Linked DNA regions of Homo sapiens. The protein of the gene in region 3 interacts with the protein of the main gene of each other region in a biochemical or structural test. Each region holds a gene or a part of one and is shown on either strand. Other genes may lie near its edges.

Region 1 (2,896 bases), on a different chromosome or scaffold from region 3:
TACATTCTGTGCTGTTTCCAGCTAAGAAAAAGGCGAACTCCCACTATATAAAGGGAAAAGGTTGTATTCATTTCATGTTCCTCATGAAATCTCTGCTGTATGTTTATGGAATGGCCATGACTAAATGTATATATGGTATGTAAGAGGCCATGCTGTTAAATGTTGCATAAACTAACACAGATTCTGTAGTCAAAAATATTTAACTTGTTATTGTAAAATGTGATTTGTCATTGAGAGATTATTTTTCTGTATGTATATGAGAGTATTTTAGGAATCTAATTTAAGTGCATAAAACTATAGAAAAAAATTTAAAACCTATTCCAAGAGTAGAAAATGCTTAATGAGATTACTTGGGTTCAACTCAACTAAATTTCTTATATTAAAAAAAAATTCCAAGTTGTATATGTTAGAAATCAAATGAGTCATTTTTTTTCCTGCAGGAAATATGATAAATTTCAGTGTAATGGATGGTGGCGTGATCAAATGAAAAGTATCCTGTAGCTATGACCTCGCATGGGACCTTGGTGTTGCATTAAAAATGGATTTTTGCAGATCACATATCTGAGAGGGTACTTGTGTCAGGAAGGATGAGAGGATAGGGAGCCTGTTTTTCATCAGATCCATGTGCCACGCAGGCTTCCTTGGGTTCTAGTGGATTTGTTAGGGATCTGGGGCTGACGCAGCTATCCCACTAGAGAGGCCACTCTCTGACTTCCAGGTCGCCCTTTCTACTTCTGTATCTGGATTGATTCAGTTTATCCCTAATTAGCGTTTGCGTTTTCCATGAAATTTCCTGATGCATCCTCACTGTCTTCAACTGTTGCATAGCCAGGTGGGTGGATGGATGGTTTAGGGTTTCTGAGTTAAGCCGTTTTGGGGCAGGCTTCTGGATGCCCATGTTTCCATGGAGACCCCAGGGGGAAGATGCCTTCCTCCCGTCTGCATTCCCAGAAAAGGATCAGAAGTCCAGGCTGCTTCTGGGGCACAGACTTTCTGTACTTGGCCACCAGAAGTGCCCCTTAGGCCACCTAAGGAGGATTCTGTGAAACTCAATGTCTAAACCCCTGAGAAAGGCATTCAGAAATGATTTCAGGAGGGGGCAACCCCAGGAGTCCAGCCTCCCCTGGCAGCCTGGAAATACTGCAGTAACAAAAAGAGCTGGTTTCTGGTGATCTGAATGCATTGTGTTTGGGGGTGACACCGCTGGTGGAAGGTTGAGGGCCTGTGGTCTGAAAAGACATCTGAAGAATGTGTTAGGTTTTCAACATTTCTTTGAACAGGCTGCGTGCATCTTAATGCTGTCAACCAGCAACTGGAGCCCCTTTTTTGAGAGGCCCGAACCAGTAAAGCTGCTGACTTCAGGAGTATGGGAAGCTGTGATTTCTGGAAGCTTCCTGGAATCTATTTAGGTGCATGAATAATCTGCAAATCACTTAGAGGCACTGTCCATGTGGTCCATAACTGGCTTTATTCCCAAAGATGGAGCTGTTCAGAGATTTCTTTGTTCAGGCGCAGCCTTGGAAGGCCACCTAAGGCCTGCCAGCAGAGGAGATGAGCTCTGGTCTACCAACCCCAAACAGGCCCTGACTCTCCTTCCTTAGAACGATGCCCTCTGGCTGGGGTGGCAAGAGGGCTGTGAGTGGAAACAAGTCAGCCAGTCAACTGTCCCTTGGGCCTTGGTTGTTTCAAAAAAGTCTGGGGACAAGAAAAGCTAGAACATGGGGCCCTCCCTTCCCAGGAGTGCTAGCGAACCCTCCCAGATAGCCTTTGCCTGTTTGGAAAAGAATGTAATCCATCAGAACGTGAGCTCCTTGTGCTTCCAGTGACAAGCGGGCCACAGTGCTGGTGGCATGTTGCTTCCCTCACAGCCCTGCCCAGGGGTAGGACCAGGCCCGCCCCTTGATGGATGTGCTGTTGATTGTAATATACTTCTGTTGCCAAATAATGGTACTGTTTAATTTTCCATAAAAGAGAGACTATATTGTCTGATATGTAATGTTAATGGAATTCTAAGAATTACTAGACACTATTATAAATTGTAGACTTACGTATTTGTCTAAAGGTTTGATGAAGCAGGGCCAAAACATTGTTTCTTCTTTTTTGTTTGAAAGAAGCTGAGGTTTGTTTTTGCTGTTTGAGTGTTCCTTTGGCAACTTATTATGTGTGAAATGTTAAATTTTACCGATTAAGATGATGGTAACTGAGACCTTTCTTTAAACCAGTAGCAACATCAGTACAAATTGCTCTTCCTGTGTATCTTGAACCTAAAAAGAACAATCTCTTCAAAAACAAAAACAAAAACAAAAAACAACTCTTTGGTCATTTTGACCTGTGTGGTTTAAATTCAAATAGTTCATGAATAAAAGGAGAAAAGCCAATCTGTTATAGTGGATTATTTTGGGTTCTTTCTGCTTCACTCTTTTCTGAGAGCACAGGAAGCTAACAGCCCTGCAAATGGTGTCTCTTCCTCTTCCCACAGATAAGATTGTAGCTGTGCAAGGAAAATTGTGCAGAAATAAACCTAGAAAACAAAACCAACCAACAACCCTTTCAGCTGTCCTGCGGCTTCAGATAAATGTTAGCTAACACCAAGCAGAAATAGATTTCTGTGTACGAAGTCTTTGTGAGAACAGGAGAAGTTTTGTGTTGTACAGCATAAGAAATTCTGAGGGTGGGGTTGAGAGGGCGGTGCAAAAAGCTGATTTTCTTATAAAGACATTCAGAAGGGTCGCTGAATTTCCAGGAAGAAGTTTCTAACACACGTAACTCCACGTGTTCAGCACTTGGGTGATCTATAATTCTGCGTTCCATAAAACCCAACGCTGAATTGTATTAGGTTGTTTCCTCCTGTTCTGGTTTTAAGGCCATTCCTACCTATTTCATCACTGATTTAACT
Region 2 (7,035 bases), on a different chromosome or scaffold from region 3:
ATGCTATTCAGTAAAATATCAAAAAAATTATAACCAGTAAGTTCTATTCTGCAACTACCTGTGTGGTCTTTGCAAAGTCACTTTTCCACAATGTTATTTATGTCAATCATGTGTGTGATTTCACCCTGAACTGCATCAACTTTTTTAGCCAATGTTTGTGTTTGAGGGTGTGTTTGAAGGTGTCAGATATCCTTCAGTCTTCTCTCCCACTCTTCTCCTCACTTCTCCTAATCACAATATTCTAATCCCCTCCCCAATTGCTGTAACTCAAGTTGCTTCTGCCATATCTAAAATATCATCCCCACCTACTCTCCATCTACTAAAACATTCATCTTTCAAGGTTTGGGCTAAGAAAAATCAGTCTACTGCAGTAGAAACTACCCCACTAGTGCTTTAGTCATCTCATGAATGTATACATTATTCCAACTAATCATTTTAGCATTTAAAACAAGTCTCAGATTTTCTTGTTGCTCAGGAATTTATTTGGGAAAGATCCCATGTACCCACAATAAGAAAAAGATGTGTGGTTCCAATTCCGATATCGACTTTCTAATATAATTCCAAATAAGATTAACAATTTACTGCAACCTTGAATCTTATTAATTAAAAATGGAGGAAGTTTAGAATTAAGTCATCTCTAAATCAAGTGGTTTAACATGGGATCTGGACAATATCAAAATTGATCAATAAAAGCCAGAGGGAGAAATGAGGCCTGTTTCTACTGTTAATGTTGAATGTTACATTTCAGGACATGTCAATTACCTTGTACAACAATCTGATTTAGAGCCTGTGATCATTTACACTACAGAGATTTTGAAATGACTGAAGGCTTAGATAATTATTTAAGACCTGCTTCAGAAAAGTCATGATCACTTAGTAATCCCCCACTACCTTACGCAGAATGTCACTTCTAAGGTAGAAACTAGTGGAACAGAAAAAAAGTCGTAATTCGGTCATATTTGACAAATATGGGTATTTTGAAGGAACAAAAGTTGTATACTCATGTAATTCAAAGTTTTATTTTAACATGAAAAATAATTTTTACTCATTCATTCATCAAACACATCCACTAAACTACTATATGCCAAGCAATATGTCAGGCACTGGAAATATGAAATGAATAAAGCAGATGCTACTGTCGAATTACTTTCATCTGTTGTTGGATGTAACACTTAGGTAAAAATTTTAGGAGCAAAGTACTAATTTTTAAACAATAGATCCACTTTTATAAGCCCCACTTTCACCTTACATAGCTGGACTTCTCCCTCTAAACAACTAACACTACCATTTTTATGAAGAGAAATTCCGCACTTACTATCTCTCAAATCTTATCTAGGCAAAATATTTGTCCCTCCTCTAAGAGTGCCTTTACTATTAGACTAAGCCAAGGACAGAATATTTATTCATCTTTATGCACAGTACTTGAACCACAGTAGACAGTCAATCAATGCTTCTGGGATTGAAGGCTCAAAACTTGATGCAATATATAGGTAATATAAGTGAATGTTGGTGCTTGAATAAAAGAGAAACTTTATTTTAATTCAGCATCTTAGTTTTAATGTAATTATAAAAGTCACCAAAAATTGACAGAACACTAGAAAACAAGTAATTGCTAAATCAAAATAGAATATCGTATACTTTTAATCTTTCATTTTTTTTCTTTCAGGTTTTTCAGTTGCCTTCTTTCCTAGATCACGTATTTCTATCGTTGTTCCTTTTTTATTGTTCCTGTGACCACTGGAGCACTAGTAATAAATCCTTAACTCAAATAGGTTATATTTAATTTCAGCACCCAAGCTCCAAATGCATCAGCTAAACTGGGTTATAGCATGGAGAATACCTCAGACGACCACAGATTTTATTTTTGTTAAGATTCTATCAAGACTGAGGCAAATTATAATAAAAGTTCTCATATCATAGAAAACAAATTACGTGGAAAAGGATAAACATTTATACAGTACTGAAGCGTTATCAACAATGAGTAGCAGAAATTCTTTTTCACTGAAGTCCAAAAGCCATCCCAGCCCTCCAGCAGATCTAAAGATTCTTGCTAAAGGTCAATTCAGGATATAGACCTAATACAAGAACAAGGTATTTACTGTCAAGATTTGCTATGAAAGTTCCACGTAACTTGTAACAACTCTGTCCTTGGCCAACTATATATACAAGGTGCTGTTACAATGAAATATATTTTAAGGCACAGTATTCCAAACTGAGTAGAACATTTTGCTCCCAGAGTCTGCACAGATTTTGGATTATTTATACCAGCTAATAGAATTAGTACCAATTAACCCGAGTTGGAAATCTGGGTGGTAACAGACTTCAGAGGGCTATCCAAGGTACTCATGCCTGGTGACTATGAACTACGAAAGATCAGAAAGAATGGGTCACAGGAATCAAGGTTGAGCTGGTAAGAAAAGGGGGAAAAGACTGGACTTCAGTATTGACAGATTAGCCCAGAATGAAGAGGAACAAAAACATCCTTTACTATGGTACAAATAAGCTTTATAACACAAATAATCTTCTCAATAATTTTATAAACATTCTAGTATCATCTTTAGGGTTATCTGAAAGAAGTTTCTATAGATATATTCTCTAGTACTTTTCTGTAGAAATTAAAAATAAAGATCATAATTGGCCTATTATCCCTGTATTTCATATTATTTCTAAAAATATTCCTAGAAATATCTGCAAGAATAGTTATTTTAATCTTTTAAGTAGCTGTGAAAACAAACCAAAAAATTGTATTGGGGGGTCTGAATAACCACTTTATCTCCTATAGAAAAGAAGATAGGTAAGAAGAGGATGAGTACTTATAGTAGGTGCCATGAATTAATGTCTAAGGGTGAAGATGTGAAATTTGCTCACTTTTTGAAAAGCAGGCATCAAGTTAGATAATGATCATTGATTTTATTTGTCCATTACTATTTCCCACTTGATCAAAGCACTGCCTATTAAAAAGGATAAATCAGATAATACCTTTACTACCACTAATGAATCAATAGAAAAGGCTAGGTTTTGCAGTCAGAATCTACTACACTGCTAATATTGCTATTAATAAGCTACATTATATTCTAACAACTCAAAGAAATTGCAGGATAATCCAGTATAATGCCTTTACCTTATATATAAATTGAATCAAGGTCCAGAGAGTTCAAATAATTTGTCCAAAATAATACAAATATATTTTCCAAGTTTTAACAAAAAACAAAGTTCGAGGAGCTATATCATCAATTATCAGAATCAGAATTAAAAATTAAATCACTGGCTTCAGTTAGTGCTTTTGCTACCATGCTCACGTTGCTTGATATCTAATCAATGTTACAGACTATTTAGTTCACCTTGGCCAACCTCTACATATTTCCAGCTGAAGTTGCTTTAAGTTGAAAAAACGGTATACAATCACAGAGGAGAGATATAAAGAAACAAGAATGCTGCTACCATCCTATTAGGGTTCACTCCTCTAAAAGTAGAGCAAAGGGATATCAGAACATACACAAGAAGGGCTGGAGTTTTGTTTCCCCAAATAAGTTAAGCGTAAGCTTCAAGAAAGTTTTTGATCTTCATGTTTTTGTAGCAAACAGTTAAGAACATCTCTGTATAAATATGCCTGAGATTGTCATCAAATAGCTTTATAAACATGTCTTTCTAGCTTATTCACTTAACTACCCAACCATCGCCGGTGGAAAAGACATATTTATGACAATGCTAACAATATTTTATTGGGCCAGGAGCATGACATCTTTACTGCTTATCAATATAGTTCTTTATCAAAAGATCTTTAATAAAAGCAAAGTGCAGAACAGTATATACAGTAAGTTCCTATTTGTGTAAAATAAGAAAGCTACATTTATTTCTACCTACACAGAAAATTACAATACAAGGACATCTAAGACATTCCAAGTAGTCTGTGTAATGATGGAAAAATGAGACAGGCTAGGGAAAAAAACTTACTTTTGCTAATCTACTCTTTGGTACTGTTTGAATAGTATTTTTATAATGTTTGTGAATTACTTTTCCAAGTAAAAAAAGGAGACCTTTGATACTGATGATGATACTACTGTAGGATATAGTTTGTCTTTTACAATCCCATACTCAAAGAATGAAGATTCACAAAAATTATTATAGGATTTTAAATATTCAGATCCACTCTAAACAAAAACTGAAGTTTACTCCCCAATTCTATCTTTAGAGTAAAAACAAAAAACTAAACACTTTATATTCTTTCACTTTTGAATAGACGTATTCCAATCCTAACGTGTTATTTTCATGAATAATGGAGTTCAAGTGTTCACTGATACTGCTAGTAAAAAGCCTATAAAACATTTCCCATTTTCTCTTTCTATAAATAACTGGTAAAATTTTAAGGTCACAAGAAATTTTCTACCATACACATTACAGAGATTTCAATAACTCCCAAATCTCAACAGAAACAGATATCACATACATAAAAACAAAATAGAATTACATTACTTAAAAAAAAAAAACATTAGAAAAGGTAATTCAGTTTTAATTTATTTTCATCACTTTTTCTTCATAATCCAGATATTTTAAAATGCAAAGAAAATTAACTTTCAATGATATGTTCAGGGACTGGCACTAAAAAAAATTTTCAGACTGCAAATGAGTTATACAAATGAAAATATCAAATGGAGATCCAGTTATCAAAATGAAAGCACTCAACATATTAAAAGTTCACAAGTATTTGTATTGAGCACATTACAAAAGTCAGCTTGCTAACTGTTGTGATTTTAAAGAACTATTGCAGAAGTCTGAAGAAAATAGATTTATTAGTTAACTTATAAAGAGATTAAAGAGGCTGAAACAAGTATTAAAAAGAAATTTGTGCCTTTATTAGAATGTTAGGCTTTAAATATGCCAATTTTGATAAATTATTGTTGTTGTTTTGTTTTTTATAAGAAATGACACTACAGAACTGCAATACTGGTCCAACACTCTTGTCTTTACTCTTCTTTTAAAGCAAGAAACAGAATGCGAGTAATCAGAAAGCACTAGCAGGCATCAGTTAATCCAAGATACTAGCTCTTAGTTCCAAAAGCACTTGCAAAGAAAACCTTTTGGGGGGAAGGGGTGGAGAGGGATGGAAGCACTCCATAATAACTGGAATCCCACGAGTGTGTATGCCAAGTCTCATGAGGCTATTTTTTGAATTTATCCTTTACTTGGTCATGGTTTTTTCCCTCAAATACAATTTTTCTTTGACTTTTTTTCCTCAAAGTATAAAAAGTATGAAATATAAACAAGCTCTTGCACTGCACACTTAGAAGTGTACAATTCAAGCATTATAGAGCTATCTACACACTGATAAATCCCATCGAATCTTGGATAATTCATTAATATACAAAATATCAGGGCACAGAAAGAACTAAAACCCACTTCTTTTTGTTACACATAAGATTCAAATATTCAATCTAAAGAAAAACACAATCACTTTCGCTCTCTTCTACATCTGCATGGTGATACACTTATTAAAATATTCCTGTATAATCATGTTTGGTGTTACTATTTCAAGTCAGGTTTAAAACCTCAAAACCAGCCATCCAGACAAAACAGGTAATCAGAAAGATTATCTCTTCCCCACCTCCCTAACCCCAATAACTATGAAGCCAATTTTACGACATGACTCCAAACACTGGATTGTGACGACAAATGCTAGGTCCAATTTCTTCATAATCCTTTTTGGTGTGGCATACTTGGTAGAACTCAGGCTGAAAACAAAAAATATGTATTTTTATAAGGGTCAAAAATCTACCATCTTGAAGGTATATTGAAATAAACTTTAAGAGTGATGCTTTAAAATAGATGTTAAGTCTAAAATGTTTATTATTAGTCCATTCATGGCATGAAAGCTTAGAAATTCTAGCAGCCATGACTTAAAATCAGCTATAAATCTTTATCGGAACTCCAAAAGAGCAATTAACTCCTGTCCCCAATCCTTGTCTCACACACCTGCTGCGAGGATTCTGAAATTTTGAAAAATGGAAGGTTCTCAAATGTCCAGTCTGTTCTGTTGAGACTTTCCCATACTTTCATTGCACCAATAATGTAAAGAAGCGGCATTCGCCTAACTACAGATAAAACTACTCCTAGTCATGCTATGACTATTTTTCGTCTAGTTCTAAGAAATGTCTAGATCATTTGCCTTCCTCATTCAAGGTCTGGAAAAGATAGACTGTTCCATGCTGTGTTACCTCATTTCTCAAGGCAAAGTCACAAACTCAACTAGGTTATATGGCCCAATTGAAGAAGACTAAAATTGAGGAAAAAAATAACTTTCACCTCTTATGTTGGAAATGGTTTTAAATCCAAAGTTGTACAGTTATTCAATAATTCAGATAAAAGCTCCTTCATTTTAATATTGCATGCACTACCAGAACAAAGCACCAATACTTCCTAGGTTAATGGTATTAGAACACTAGAACACCTTTTTAGGGGGCTTTAAAGACATTTTAATTTGGGGACAGGATTCTTAGAATAATTCCCTTTATTCAGTGTAAAACATCATACTTTCTATGCAATGAAGCTTAACTTTTACCTTAATGTTTTTAAATACTTAAACAGAACAAACAAGGACCTTCTGATGACTAAATTACCAGTTTTAACAGAACTTTCCCTACAGATAAACTTTAAAACATAGTATAAAATGGTCACTCTAAAATAATGTCTAGCAAGCTAAAAAAAAAAAAAAAATTAAATTCAAATGACTTCCAATTAAATTTAAATTACTTCCAATTTTTAAAATACTACAAACACATATATACAAAGTTTCCTATTATTTTGAGATACAATTTAAAGGAATTTGCTTTGTTCTTCTCCAAGTATTGATGGACTCTTCTATCTTAAATATATATATATAAATTTAAACATAAGCTTCAGCCAGGCGCAGCAGCTCACACCTGTAAACTCAGCGCTCTTTGGGAGGCTGAGGTGGAAGGATCACTTGAGCCCAAGAGTTTGAGACCAGCCTGGCCCAACATAGTAAGACCTCATCTCAATAAAAAATAATAATAATAA
Region 3 (7,919 bases):
TTCCATATATTTATACACAGTCTTAATCCACACAACTACCCCATGAGATAGTATCCTTGTTTTACAGATGAGAAAACCAAATCTAGGATAGGAAGCTCAAGAAACTTGTCCAAAGTGACCCCCAGTTTGAACCCACATTTGCTGTTACAAAGCCAAGGCATTTTCTACTGTGAAAAGCAGCCTCTTACACATCACTCTGAAGCACTGACTTATCAGTTTACACGTTTCCCTTTTTAGACCTAGTAAGCTCCCTGAGGACAAGTATCAGCCCTTCCAGATTTTGACCTCAACATTTATTCAATACATGTTTGTTGAATGAAAGAAGAAATGAAGCTCCTCCAGAGCTTCGACTATAACTGCTTCTGTTTCATTTCTTGAATTCTTAGGTAGAGCTCTGAGTACTGAGTATACTTCTGCCTAACACATTTGGTCTGACCTGTAAATCTTACTGCTGGATTTATTATGAGACAATATATTTCAGTAATGTTTTAAAGGACAAAAACAACCTGAATAATCAGCCAAGGGAGGAAAAGATTATTTCAAAAATTAAAATATCACTCTTACTTCACTCTCTATTAACTAGGGACTTCAAATATTGAAATTAGTATTTGCAACGACTTCATCCCACAAAAGCAGACAACTGAAAGTGTGGTTTTTAAATGACAAATTCAAAAGGTACAGTTGATTAATAAAAGATGGCATAAAGAAATTAAGCACTGAATACTGAGAGCCTATTCAGCAATCCACTTACACTAACCAATGTGCAACATCATTTTTCTCTATCACAGTATTTTTCCCCATCTGCCATTTTTCGAAACCAGTAAAACTACAGGTAAGCACAGAACAATTAGTATACTTGTGTATAAATGTAATGTCCTTTCTGCCTAAAGTTAATGTGTCTGGTATGTAGAACACAGCACAACTACTTCCTTTTTGATACAGGTTACATAGCTAATCTACTAAACCAGCAACTGAATTTTTTTCATTGGAGGTAACTAACATTCAAAGTGCTGAAGATTTTCCTAAACTGAGCATATGCAAACATTAGTGGTGCTTTAAGAATCTTGTATTTTAATTAGTTTTTGGTGAAAAAGGCAAAGTGGTTATTTCTTTAACACCACTTTTAGAAATAAATCAGTAACAGGAAAAAAAAATACCCTTCTAAAACAACATGATGTAGTGCAAAGTACAATGGGATAGGACTAGGTGTGAGGAGTCCTGGTTTTCTAGTTCTGGTTACATTATTAAATTGCTGTATGACTTGGGCTCACTGGATCAGTTTTCTCATTTGTTGAAAAAAGTGTGTGTGAATGGGGAGGGGCTTAAAGTTGTTACCCAAAATTCTCGTTTTGAGCCACTCCTCTTGTTTCATCCTTCTAATCAGGAAACTCAATGTTCTCTAAGGTCTAAATTCCGAAATATGAAACACATCTGAAATTGAATGGAACGATTCAATCTCCAACCGGATGGCACAAGATACAAAGGGTGGACTCCTATGAAGTTAACAATGAATCCAATAACTTTCCAGAAATTGTCTAATCCTAACTTCTTAAAGAAGCAGGTGAAATCTGGTTTGGCATACCTAATATTACTTAAAGGAGTTATAAAATGGTATTGCTTTGTTGAAATTTCCGTGTTTTCTGGGTTCCAGTGGCACATACTCTGCAGGTGCTAGCAAAGTGGAGAGAAAGGGATCCAGCCAGTATTTCAACAAACCACACTTCAACCCAGTCACCGCAGTATGATCCCGACAAGGCCTACACCACAGAGCAGAACCTCCCCACCCCCAGAATTGCCAGCAGCCAATGTAATGAATGCTTCCGTCAACAACACACATTCCCCTTCCCACAGCAGAACTGCTCGCTCCCAACCGGCCATCTGGGGTTGGAATTGGCCGCACAGCACCAAACTAAGAATCATTCTCGGCCCCAAAAGCCAAGAGCTACCAGAGATTGAGGTTTCCCTGCGCATGGCTGCGGGGAGAGCAGCACCCCCTCCCACCAATGGGGGGAAAAAAAAAATCAGTGGGAAGGAGAGTAGAAACCAGGCCTAGGCAAGGTTGCTAGAGAAATAAATCTTGTTTCTCTTTAACGAAGAGCAATAACATTTCTTGCACCCTCTCTAATCCGAAGAGAGCCCAGGCTCTTGCACTCGACTTCATTCCCTCCTGGAATCCTAATGGGAGATTAAAAACCACCTTCCTTCCCCGACCTATCCACTCCTCAAACCTGGCATTGTTAAGGAACGTACCCCCAGATCAAGCAGTAAGAGGTGAAGCGAGAGCTAGAACAAGGGCCCAGATTCTAGGACCAAGCGGCTCTTGCAAGAAAATCCCCTTGTGGCCTGAGAATAAAGTTTTAACCAGCAGCAAGGGCGCGGGCCGAGGCCCGGCCAGGCTGGAGGACAGGCCTGCGGAGGTGACACTCCCTTATTCTCCAGCAGCTCGGGAAGGCGGCGCCCGACCGCCACGGCCCGCACCCTGGGAGCAGGGCGAGGGCGCCGACGAGGGGCCGGGGCCGGGGCCGGGGCTGGCGGGAGGCCTGGCCCGCGCCGCTCCCGCCTCCTTCCCCACTCCCACTTCCCGGCCCCCAAGCCCGGGCCCGTGAGGTAATGTCACGGGTGGCGACGCGGGTCTCGTCCACTGACCACACATTTCTTGCCGAGGAAAGTGAAGAGGGACTCGTTCTCCTGCGGGGTGAGCAACAGGGACCCCACGTTGGTGACCCTCCGCGGCGGCGGCGGCTGCTGCTGGACGGAGCTCATGGTTTCGCCGGCGGGGTTGGGAGTCCAGGGCCGTCTCCTCCGGCGAGTGGGCGAGAGCTCGTTCCCCCTCTCGGTGACAGGGGCGGGGAGAAGTGGAGTCAGAGGCGCCACATCTCGCAGCTCCTCCGGAGCGGGGAGGAGGACGAGGTCGAGGGAAGCAGGCGCTGACGGCGAGCCACCTTCGCGCCGCGCTGAGAAAGGGAAGCTCCCGGCACCCGCCCGGCCAGGCTAGGGCCGGATGGTCGTTGTCCTCGCACTCCGGCGACTGCGCTAAACTCCCAACTCCTCCCCCAACCCTCCCGCAGCGGCGGCGGCGGCCGCACAATCCAACATGGCAGCGGGGGCGGGCGAGACCACAGGACGGAGGGCGCGGGGGAGCGCGCCGGAAACGCGCGGCTGCGGCCCGGGAGAAACCCCCCCACTCGGCGGCGGGCCTCGCGGCGCGGGCCCGAAGCCACGCCCCCTTCCGGCCGAGGCGCGGACCGCGCGGAGCTAAGTGGAATCCCGGTTGGCTTGGGGCGCAGGCTTCCAACTTCGTACTCTGGCCTCTGGCGTCTCGGCTCGTCGGTTGGGTACCCGAACCCAGCTACTGCTGCTTGAAGAGAAGATGGATGGGGACTCCTCGCCGTCGCTGCGCCGCCGGCCTTCCCTGGGCGGACGTACACCTTTGCGAAGCGTCAGTGAGGACCCAGGGCCCCTCCTTGGAATAGCTCTTATTTCTCAAGCGCTGCAGCGTGAAGCTCGCTCTGCGGGTCCGAGAGGCCTGCGATCTGAAGACTGAAAACTGGGAAGAGACGCTCTACCCTGTGCTCCTCGCCGGCTTCGATAGGAGCCGCAGGTGCCTGGGATTTTCTCAAACTTTGTCCCAAACTTCAGCTGTGGGAGTGGAGGAACAAACAGGCCTCTCCCAGAATTGTGAAAGAGATCGCCCTGGTGGATGAAACAAAAACAAATGCACTTGACTTCCACCGCCTGCCTGGCGTGTCACGCGGGTTTAATGTATGTGTCACATTTAAATTCAAAGTATTTTCTTCTAAGGGCCTGGACACATTTCTTTTCTCCCTGTATCGTGAATTGGAAAATACCTTAGGATATTAAAAGTTATCTAAGATAACCCCCTTTCTTCTGTAAGTTAAATACTAAACGGCTTAAGACGAAATTTTGGAATATAGAGATGATGATGCAGACTGCAGTGAATTATCAAATATGCATCTCACTGTTCTCCACATTAAACATATTTTTGTTGCGTAAATTCATGTTAAGACGTCTATAACAATTACACTTTGGTAAAATTGTTGGATGTTAACATCTCTGATAGCTCCCAATAGAAATCTCTGATGTACTAACCAGACTGGTAAACCATTATCATGCACTTTGAAAATATAATAAAATATTATAATTAAAGCTGCCATTAATGAAATAGGCTGAGCAACAATAAATTTACAAAGGAAAATAAAAGTGGATAGCCTTGGGAGTTCTCACATAAAATATGGAGATTTCAAAGTTAAACTTGATTAATTATGTTAGGGTAAAAAGTGAATTAAAGCAACAGGACTATTTATAAAATAATTAGATTTAGAAAGCAGTCGTAGAAATATAAGCCTGGAGTTGCCTCTGAATTACATATTTAACAAACCTAGAAGCTAAATCAGTTTGTCTTTTATCAAAACTGCAACTCCTCTAAGTTGAAAGCACAGTGACAAGAGAAAGCATTACAAATTCTTGAGAAATAATAGAAATTAAAGCTCTTTTCAAACCTGTGAACAAGTATAGTACCAGAAGTATAAGATTCAGATAGGCCCAAGTTGTAGTTCTTGTTATGAGTCTTACAACCCTATGGACTTTGGACAAATTACTTCTCTGCGTCTGTTTCCTCATCTGTAAAATGAAAATAATTTCTGTTTCATACAGGTATAGTCTAAATAGGGATAATTACACCTACTTCAAAGTTGTAAAATACACAATTACAACTAGATAGGAGGTATAAGTTCTAGTGTTCTGTAGCACTGTAGGATGACTATAGTTAACAATATTGTATAGTTTCAAATAGCTAGAAGAAGGATATTGCATGTTCCCAAAACAAAGACATAAGTTTTTGAGATGATAGATATGCTAATTACCCTAATCACTATATGTTATATGTATTGCAACATCACTATGTACCCCCATAAATATGTACAGTTATTGTGTATTAAAATTTTTTTAAACTAAAATTATAAGACATTAAAAAAAGGTATCACATGTAAAGTACCTGATACATAGTGGTTACTCAAGTATTAGTTGTCGGCCATTGACAGTCCTTGCCTATGGTCTTTTCTGCTTTCCCTGAGCTAAGGGATCAAGACTTAATATATGTATTCTTACCTTTGTTCTAATTCTGACTCTTCAAAAACTGTCCTTCAAATATACAATTGTACATATTTTTTCAAAAATATAGTGAAGAACTTGATAGCAGAATTTCTGATTAGGCCATATATTATATCAAATAGGCTACATATATCCCAGTATGCCAAAATAAAACTTTTTAAAACTGTAAATCCAGAGATAGAATCCTATTAGCTTCTAATTTAATAAAAACTGAAAGATTAGCAAATTTTATGTTAGAAATACCAGCTTTTAGAACTTGTAGACCACCAAACTATTTTGAAGACAGGAAAGAGTAGTGGGAGAGGGCTGTGAAAAAAAAAAAAAAGGCCATGAGATGATAGGTGAATGGACAGTAGCTGCGTTCAAGAATTTATCTCATTCTGAGAATTATTGAGTTCCAATCATTTCACAACCTCTTACTAGCCTAGACTATCTATTGTTTTGATTTTCTTTTCTTTCAGGAAATTTTATGACTTATCTAAATGCAATTTTCTTTTTACTATTTGCCCTTTTTCTGTTTTCTTTAGACTTGGAGATGGAAAATGATGACCACAGTAGACTTTTTTCCTCAGGTCCAACCTTTCTTTAATTTTTCTCCAAATTTTTAGTATAGTCCTTTGTCCACAAAATTGCAATTTAAGTTCTTGTCTTCTACCCTCCATTGTTATTTTTGTTTTTCTCTGGGCTTTTTCCAACTCTTGATGTGGAAAATGTAAGCATGAACATTTCACTGGAAATATGACTTCCTTACTCATTTAAGCCTGTGAACAAGCAATATTTGGGGATTCCCTCCTTACCATACATAAAGGATTCTATTTTTCCATACTCATCCTGAGACCAAGCAGTACTGGCTGTTTTTGTTTCAAAAGTTTTAGCAAGTCCTTTCTTTCATTCTTGATAGCATATCCTCTGTTTGGCAGAACACAAGACATCTTTTCTCTCTGTTTTCTTTGGCAAGTTATTTCCTTATCTCAAATTTTTTTACCCAGTTTGAGAGATTGGATTTTATCCAGGACATAAGCATTCTGTTTCCCTTCAACAGAGTATCTTGAAGTTTGTAAGCGCTGTTAAGAAGACTAGGGGTTTTATCTTAATATACATATAAAATGCATATGCTAGAAATACCAGCTTTCAGAGCTTGTAGACCACCAACCTATTTTGAAGACAGGAAAGAGTAGTGGGAGAGGGCTGTGAAAAAAAGCTTTATTACGGTGTATATGAATATAACAAAAAAAAGGCAATTCTTACATTTAATTTCTTCCATTTGACTCTCCTTACCTCAACTAGCATCTATTCTAGTACTTCATTTTCTTCTTTCTTTGGTATGATCTTTTAAGGTAAAGCCCTCATTTTAACAGAAAACATTAGGGTAGCTTATTATGGAAATGAGAGCATATTTTCAGATACATTCCTGCTGTTATCCTTATGGGTACTTTGCAAGCTTCTCTTGTTACGGTTCTTTGTTATATATTTTTCTTCTTTACAAATGTCATTGTTTATGTACTGTTAAAAGTCCTCTGAAACACCCTATTCCCCTTGCTAATGTTAATAATTTAAAATGTAGTGACACCCTTTACTGTGGGGGAATATAAAGGTGGCTGAAAGCACACGGCATTCAGCAGCCATTGTAGCCATAATTGCTGCTTGGCTATGGCAGAACTGATTTTATAGAGACAGAACAACAGCAAATCTGAATACTGCAAATCTGGATTTGCAGAAAAAGTGCAGGGGCAATGAGTGCTACTTCTCCCATGCAACCTCCAGAAATGTCATGTGTCTAAAATGTTCGTCTTGTAAAATATCTGCACATTTTTATGTAAATGTTGCATATGGCAATGCTTACAAGAATTTATTCTAGTACATGTTATCCCAAGTTAAATGTTAATTGTTTTCTTTTTCATCAACTAAATTCTGAAAAGTAAGCTAGCACACCATTTTTTTTCTGCCTCTCCTTTTTAAATTCATTTTAACTACAAACCTCTTTGGGGCTTTCTTTTTTAGGAATAAATAGTTTATTTACAAATCATTCTGATTTCTTATTGAAGTTAGTGGAAAATTGAACACTTATTCATGCTACAAAATTACCAGTGATAGTTACTACCATTATATGTCCTAGTCTCCAAATACCTAGTACTTACCTGTAATCAAGAAATGATTTGAAGAGCTAAGTATGTTATAGTTCCCAGGATGCTGCTTATGGTTTTCTGGCTGCTCTTTAACTTTAATGAATATTCAATGGCTTATTATTATTCCAAATGAGAGAGAACAACATTGATTTCTTTATTGTAATGTTCTCAAGGTCAATCTACATTATAAATGAGTAGGCAGGCTGGATACTTGGGAAAATTTGAAGATGCCACATGTCCCCATTACCACATTGAAATTATTGGGGTCAAGGATATGGTCTCTGCTACCATGTAACATTTTTAAAATCAATTTTTATTTTTATACAAATGATAAATGCACATAATTTAAAAAATCAAATAGTAGTACAAAACTTAAAACAGCATAAAACAGAAGTTACATTCTTGGACCACTTTAACTTTGTTGGATTTTACCCCCCTCAATAATTTGCTTAAATTTTATTTCTTTTATTTCTTCTATATTAAGAACTATAAAGTCCTTCCTCATATTATTTTCCACATAATCAAGTGTATCAGGAATCTATTAGACTCACTAATTTTAATCAAAGACCTGTCTCCCAAAGCCATCCATCATCCCATATTAATCTGTACTGTTGCTACATGGCTATTGTCTGGAATTTTATTGAGTTACTATCCTGGGATTTC
Region 4 (7,035 bases), on a different chromosome or scaffold from region 3:
GGTCCCTTGGGCTGAGGGTTCCATAGGCTGAACTGAGCCTATCTTGTCTCCACAGAGTGCCCAGCACCTAAACTGGGCACCAGATACAGACACATAGTAGGTGCTCAGTGAACGAGGAAGGGCCAGGTGCAGAGGAGGGGCTCGACCCACTTCCTGGCCCAGCCTTAGGCCCTCCCTCCGTCTGTCGGGGCCTCACCTCTTTATCATGCCGCAGGACGGCTGTATGCCAGGGCTGCTGGTCAGCGGGGTGACCTCCCGATCGTAATAGTTCTGGTAGGGCACCGGAGCTGCAGACAGCAAGCCGTGAGCCCCAGGGCGGCCCCCAACACCCCATTCTGGCCCTGCCAGACTCAGCTGGGGCCCTACATTCCCAATCTGGCCCTGGCCCATCCTGGTGCCTGAGGAGGTGCCTGTCTTGCTCCCATGAGAGACCCCACCGTAGGTACCATCAAGACCTAATATTCTGGACCCGTGATCCAGTGGAACCAAACAGGCGGGGAGTGGGGGCCGTGGGAGCTCCTCACCTCAATCCCCATCCCCACCTCTTCCTCTGAGTGCCATCATGCCCTTAGCTTTGCCTGAGAGGAGGCAGCAGGCCTGGGACCCAACTCCCCACAACCCCTGCTAGGGCTTCTCTGCCCTGAAGGGAGCTGTGAGCTACCCCAGCCCGGTCCTGGCACTTGAGGCTCAGGGCCGGGCCTTCCCAGGGGCTCAATGCACCTAGAGGCTGCGCTGTCCGCAAGCCGGACCTCACCGGGGGGCTCTGTGCCCGTGCTCTTGGCCTGGATGAAACTGTCGATGTCGGCGTCTATGCTGCAGCCTTCCAGCGTCAGCCGCACTTCCTCGTAGAGCTGGGGCAGGAAAGAGCAGAGGCCGCAGCCCGATGCCCACTCTGCCCCTCTGTGGGCCTGAACTCTGACCAGCGGCCCCCACCCACCGGCCTCCTCACAGGCCATTGTGCGCGGCTCGGGGTCTTTGATCCTGAGGGGTCACGGCCCTGGCTGACAGCTTCCTGTTTCCTGAACACCTTCTGTGTGCAAGGCCCTGTGCAAGGGACTTAACTCACACCTGTCCTCTAAGGTAGACCCCACTTTTCCCATTGGATAGATGAGGAAACTCAGAGGAGAGTGACTTGCCCAAGGTCACAGCGAGAATGCAGCACAGCCAGGCCTTGGGGCTAGGAGAGTGGGTCCAGAGCTCGCCCTTCTACCTCAAGGAGGCGAGGAGGCAGCAGGGGGCTCGAGTCACTTGGGCAAAAACAACAAGAAAATCAACCCCCACAGCCCCGGACAGGAGCGTCAGGCAGGAAACACAGCAGGCAAGGGGGCCAGGGCTGCCCGGGAGAGCCGTGTGCTGGGCTGCATCCATCCACAGAGCTCAGGGACCCTGGCTGGGGGCCCTCTCTGCTGGGGAGGACCCACCCAGCAGGTTGGGCTCAGTAAGGGGAACCAGGACACCCTGGAGATGTGGGGAGCAGAGGAAGGACTGCGCCTCGGCTCCTGCAAGCACCAGGCCTAGAGCAGAGCAGCCACGGTCCTCCAGCTTCTGCCAACCTCTGACAGCTGTGTCCACCTCCCCTCCCATCCCCGGCAGAGGGGGCAGGTGCTCTGTGGCTCTGAGGCATAAGGAGGAAGTCAGGGGAACCACAGAGTCATCATCTTCCAGGCAGAGAAGCCATGGCCCTGTGTGGTACTGAGCTCCTGTCTTGGGGTTCTGGGGGCAAAGGCTGAGCTGCTGAGGCCTGAGACCCCTGGGGCCAGGCTTGGATCACAGAGGACCAGGTGCTTGTTGACCGGCTCAGATGGACCTGGGTGCTTTGCTGCCTAGAGGCTGCCCTACCTTACCCCACACCAAGGCCCTCAGCCCCCACCTCATCATCCTTGACACACTGCATGGAGAGCTGGTTGCTGTGCACCCACAGGGCGTTGCGGAGAATGGTCAGCCGGTCAAACTCTTGCAGCTGAAAGGCCTGGGGGCAGTGGGAGGGAGGTGAGCAGTGAGGAGGCGGCTGCAGGGCCCGGCCAGGCTGGGCCCCATTCACAGCTCAGCCGGAGCTGACCAGGCCAGCCCTCTCTGCTGGAAGCCCAGTCCAAAGGAGAGAGTGCCCTGGGGTCCCCATCCCGACTCCGGGCCAGCCCTGAGGCTGCAGGGAGGGAGGTGGAGATGCCCAGGGGGTCCCTGCCCCAGCCTCCCTTCAGGCTGCACCACACCGAGGCAGAAGGGTAGTGAGAGGGACCTCGGACGGGAGTCCTGAGCCCTGTTCCCCAGGCCCTGTCCATCGGCAGCACCCAGAGAGGCTGTGGGTTTAGTCCAAGTCCCAGTTTTGGCTTCAACAAAGAGGGTGGAAGAATGCCTGCCTGCAACGAAGGGGCCCAGGACTCAAGGCCAGGCGACAAGCAACAGGGCCAGGGCCCAGCACAGGCCTGTGAGCAGGAGGCTGAATAAACGAGTGAGTAACAGGTACCTTCCCCAACTGCCTCACTTGGGCCCCTTTAAGCAGCTGGAGTAGGGATGGGCGTCTCACACTTCCCAGCTGGGGAAAACGAGGCTCCACGTGGGCCACTCACCTCACAGGTGGTCCGGTGCTCCTGCTCCCACTCAGCCCGGACCTTCTCCAGCTGCGCAATGCTCTGCCTGTATACCCGCTCTGAAAGCGCAGGCAGCCTCAGGGAGGGCCCTGACACGAGCTCCTCCACCCCTGTACTCCAGCAGGTCCCATCCTGGATGCCTCCTCCCACTGGGAGCCCCGCCTCCCCCATGGGACCTGCCCTAGCAGATGGCGGGGCCTCATCTGAATGCCCGTCAGGGCCACCCACGCTGGTGCTGCTGCTGCTCCCCAACTGTGCTCTGAGCTGCCTGAGGGCTGGAGTGGAGCCTCATATATGCAAGTCCAGAGTATTGGCCTCTGGGCATCTCTGGGCGCCCCACCTCACTTTCCAGAGGGGAAACTGAGGTTCAGAGAAGGCAGCTGAGAGGGCGCTGGAGGAGGGGTGGAGTCCCACAGGCTTGGGTCACAACTTCTGTGCCCAGATCTCTGGAGGTCACCTGTCCCCCAGCCGAGGGAGTAGCTGAGTCCCAGTAAAGGCAGAGCAGAAGGGAGAGGCCTTCCCAGGGGAAGGGAGGAGGGTGGGTGCTGTGTCTGGTGGGTGGGGCACCAGCAGGGACAAGAGTGTTGGTAGGATTCGGGCATCAAGTGAAGGACAGAGGCCCAGAGAAGGCTATGTGCACAAGTCCTGGGCTCTGAAGCCCGATGGCCTGGGTTCAAATGCAGCTGTAACCTGGGGCAAGTACTGGACCTTTTAGTGCCTCTGTTTCCTCATCTGTTAAGAAAGGGAACAGTAACAGCAGCCACCTCGGAGGGCAGCTGTGAGGACTGAACACATGAAGCGCCAAGAAGGGCTGGCGAATGGGGGAACACAGCGTTTACTTTGACGGCACATATCTGGAATGAGAGCGCCGCGCCCATGATTGTGCAGCCAGGGGGAGTGTGTGTGTCCCCAGGGTGAGGAGGTGTGTGTGGGGAGTACCGCCCAGGCCTCCGCCCTGGTCGGACGGGGCAGCCAGGCCCACATACCTGCCTCGGTGGCCGAGTCCTTGCACTGCCTGGCTTTGTTCTGACTCTGAGGAAACAGAGGGGAAGCAGCGCTAAGCCCCTGCCCCAGGAGCCAGGGCCCACCCCAGCAGACCTGAAGTGACTGTCAAGCTTCCCCGGCCACCCTGGGGGGAACATTCAGGAGCCAACTATGGGCAGATGCCATCATCCACAAGCAACCTCCGCCCACAGAGGACCACAGGCTAGCTCCATGGAAAGAGAACGAAGACAGGAACCGAGCCCAGGAGGATGCCTGTGAAGAGTGAGACCACAACCCACAGGAGAGGTGCAACTACTGCTGAGCCCCCTGGCTGGGACTTGGGCTCTGGCCCCTGACTGACTGCCCCCAGCTCACCCTCAGGCCACTTCCCTCTCTGGGCCTCAGCCTTCCTGTCTGTGCAATGAGTGATGTGTTTCCTGGGCTCTGGGAGCTCTGATACCCCCACTCTGGCCTAGGGGCCACAGCATCAGGAGCATGGGCTCTAGACCACCTGAGTTGGGGGTCCCTTTTCTGCTGCTTCCTGGCTCTGAGACCTTAGACAAGTCACTTACTGTGAGCCTCAGTTTCCTCTCTGTGACATGGGCCTACTGAGCCCTTCTCCAAGGTTGTGTGAGGGTTGGCGTCTGCTCTCATCACCCTGTGGGCCTCAGTGGGCCTGCACCGAGGAATGGGTCCCTGAGTGCCGCCTGACGGTGGCAAAGGGGATCCAGCTGACCTGCCTGTCCATGGCCTGAGGTTCTCTCCAGGAAACCCATTTCACAGATGGGGAGATTGGGGGTCAGAGAGGGCTAAGCAGCATCCCCAGATGCAGATCTTGCCTGGGGGTGTCTACGGCACCCCTTCCTTGCCTCCCCCACTGCCCCCAGCCCTGGGCGACCCACACGGCCCAGCAGCCCAGCGCACCTTCTCCACCTGCTTCTGGTGGCCGTTGGCGCTAATGCGCTCGAAGGCCTGCTCCGCGTCGTCCGCGTCCCGGCACTTCTGCTCGTATGTCTTCTTGGACTGGGGGTGTGGAGGGGCGTGACTTGGGGGCTGCACAGCCCTGTTCTGTGGTCCCCGGGAGTGAGGCTCCCTTAGCCCAGCCTCCCTTTTTCCCTGGCGAGGGTTGCGGGTGGAGTGGGGGCATCCTCACCAGGGACAGGGATCTGGGGGTCCGGAAGGAGATAGAGAAGGCGTGGGGGCTGCTGGTAGTCCTGCTCTCAGGCCCTCCCCACTGAGGACAGCGCGGCCTGCCCCGGGCCCCGCCTCCTGGGCTGTGCTCTTCGGCGAGGGCACGCCCCTCGCCACGCCCCTCGCCACGCCGCGCCCTCTTAGGAGCCCCTCTCCCTTCCTGTCCAGCGTCTCGCAGGATCAAGCTCAGGGGTCCCTCCTCCCTCCACCCCTGGAGTCCCCAGCTGACTTCATCTGCCCTTCATTCACGAGCCCCACAAGGGAAGGGCCCGGGACCATCCCCACGGGGCCATAGCGCCCAGCACGGGCCCAAGCGCCCCGCAGGCTGGTGCGCCCAAGGCCGAGGTCCGAGGACCAAGGCTGAGGTCAGCCTGTTCCAAATGCCCTGCCCGGGGCCACAGCCCAGGATCGCACCCTGAGACCTGCGCTGCTCCTCGAGGGAAGGCCGCGGCCCCAGGCCCTGGCGCTCACCTCCATGGCCTTCTTGTAGAGCGACAGCTTGCTCTTCTGGACCCGGTCCATGACGGCCTCATACTGCAGGGGACACGAGGTTCTGAGCCGAGGGCCGCGGCCTCGGGAGGCTCCCCTAGGCCAAGAGGACGGAGTGTCCCTGGGATGAGGCGCAGCACCTCTCCTGGCTCTGGAGAGAGGGTGACAGGCTGCCCTCCCTCCCCCAGAGCCTGCTGCTTCACAGTGACCCTCACAATGGAAGGCCACAGAGAATCACAGGGCATGGGTGTGCCGTGAGGTCCTTGCTGCAGACCTTGGCCAGAGCTTCGTCTCCAGCTGGGGAGTTCCCACCCCAACACACGTGCGCACACAGTCGTTCATCCTGCATCCCTGAGCCTCTGCAGGCATCACAGTCGCTCACACGTGTGTGTACACTCTGGCACACACATACATGCAGAGTTCCACATTAACTCGGAGGCACACAGGCCCCATCCCTAGCTGCCCACACGCATGATCACAGGCATTCCTGTGCACACCCACAGATGCCACTCACAAGTACACACTCCCACAGTCACCCACACACAACCACAGGCCACATGCAGGCACAGTGGCCACTGGGCCCCTGTGCCGAGGTCTGGGGCCAAAGCCTCCCCTCACCTCCCAGGCTTCCTGTTCTGATAGAGAAGGCAAAACAGCCAGGACAGCGACTGGGTTATGAGGTAGGAGGAGAACTGAGCCAGTTTGTGCCTGGGGTCTCAGGGGAGGGGTTCTGTGCCAGCTGGGAGACCAGCGAGGCACAGGCACTCACACACACACAGCACAAAACACCCAAGTGCACAGGGCTGGACAAGGACACATGCTCACAGGCATATGCAGGGGAGCGTAGGCACGTGTGCACCATCCTGTAAGCACATGTCCTTGCTCTGTGGCACACGCACATACACACACAGGCTCAGACACACATGGCACACACTACAACACAGCGCTCTGCCTGCGGGGCCCTGGCCACTTGGAGAAAGAATGCTCTGTCCAAAACAGCCTTTGCAGCCAGTGCAGCTCCTCTGGCCACAGGAGGGCCCAAAATAGCAGGGCCGGGGTCCCTCCTTCCTGGCAGGTTCTCTGCAGGCTCTGCGGGCACGTCCCAGCTCAGAGAGGGTGCCTGCTCCGGCACCTCAAGCCTGGGCTGGCTTCTGGGGACCCCCTGTCTGCTCAGAACCCCACATTTAGAATCCTGAAAGCCCAGCTGGCAGATGGGCAGGTGGCACGGGCAGCCACGCTACATTTCTGCCAGCAGAGCTGCTAACCAGAGCTGGAGCCCTGTCTGTGGAGACTGAGGGGCGCATGGCTTGGGCTGAGCTCCCAGCACTTGGGAGGTAGACATATGTGTCCCATCCTGTGAGAGGGAAACTGAGGCACAGAGATGGGAAGTGGTATGGCCAGGACACCCAGGCCTAGCCTGGCCCCAGCCTCAGGTACAGCTTCTTCCCCTTCAAGGCTCAGTTGTGACTTTTCATTTTCAATTCTTTGGCCACTTCACAACGATCCTTCCTCCCCAGGCAAGAAGCGGATCTGTGTGCTGCCCTGCCACCCTGTGCAGGGCACCACCCTCATCACTAAGGCCCTGAGAGGCTCAGCCCCCATCCTCACAGGCCCAAGCCCAGCCTCCAGGCCAGTCTGCGTCCTGCCTGCCCTCCAGGGAACCTATATCCAACTTCAGCCCTGCAGCCTCCCTGACAAGCATCTGCCAGCCTCTGCTTACACACCTCCCATGATGGGGACTTCACTTCCATGCAGTCACTCTGTCTCGGGACAGCCATGCCCT

What was found.
Region 1: the proteins of WASL (region 3) and ITSN1 form a complex in vitro, tested with the Homo sapiens proteins (one study listed by BioGRID and IntAct).
Region 2: the proteins of WASL (region 3) and ACTR3 interact in a test that uses a peptide from one of them, tested with the Homo sapiens proteins (one study listed by BioGRID).
Region 4: the proteins of WASL (region 3) and PSTPIP1 form a complex in vitro, tested with the Homo sapiens proteins (one study listed by BioGRID).

The regions. Positions count from the first base shown.
Region 1 is NC_000021.9:33,897,484-33,900,379, forward strand, and holds the end of ITSN1 (intersectin-1), read left to right. Parts: 3' UTR 1-2,378; downstream 2,379-2,896. UniProt on the Homo sapiens protein: Adapter protein that provides a link between the endocytic membrane traffic and the actin assembly machinery. Acts as a guanine nucleotide exchange factor (GEF) for CDC42, and thereby stimulates actin nucleation mediated by WASL and the ARP2/3 complex.
Region 2 is NC_000002.12:113,956,054-113,963,088, reverse strand, and holds the end of ACTR3 (actin-related protein 3), read right to left. Parts: intron 5,730-7,035; coding exon 5,634-5,729; 3' UTR 493-5,633; downstream 1-492. UniProt on the Homo sapiens protein: ATP-binding component of the Arp2/3 complex, a multiprotein complex that mediates actin polymerization upon stimulation by nucleation-promoting factor (NPF).
Region 3 is NC_000007.14:123,745,972-123,753,890, forward strand, and holds the start of WASL (actin nucleation-promoting factor WASL), read right to left. Parts: upstream 3,033-7,919; 5' UTR 2,764-3,032; coding exon 2,647-2,763; intron 1-2,646. UniProt on the Homo sapiens protein: Regulates actin polymerization by stimulating the actin-nucleating activity of the Arp2/3 complex. Involved in various processes, such as mitosis and cytokinesis, via its role in the regulation of actin polymerization.
Region 4 is NC_000015.10:77,026,114-77,033,148, reverse strand, and holds part of PSTPIP1 (proline-serine-threonine phosphatase-interacting protein 1), read right to left. Parts: intron 7,034-7,035; coding exon of another isoform or gene 6,977-7,033; intron 5,350-6,976; exon of another isoform or gene 5,298-5,349; coding exon 5,235-5,297; intron 4,596-5,234; coding exon 4,497-4,595; intron 3,621-4,496; coding exon 3,575-3,620; intron 2,648-3,574; coding exon 2,568-2,647; intron 1,970-2,567; coding exon 1,871-1,969; intron 852-1,870; coding exon 755-851; coding exon of another isoform or gene 721-754; intron 288-720; coding exon 197-287; intron 1-196. UniProt on the Homo sapiens protein: Involved in regulation of the actin cytoskeleton. May regulate WAS actin-bundling activity. Bridges the interaction between ABL1 and PTPN18 leading to ABL1 dephosphorylation.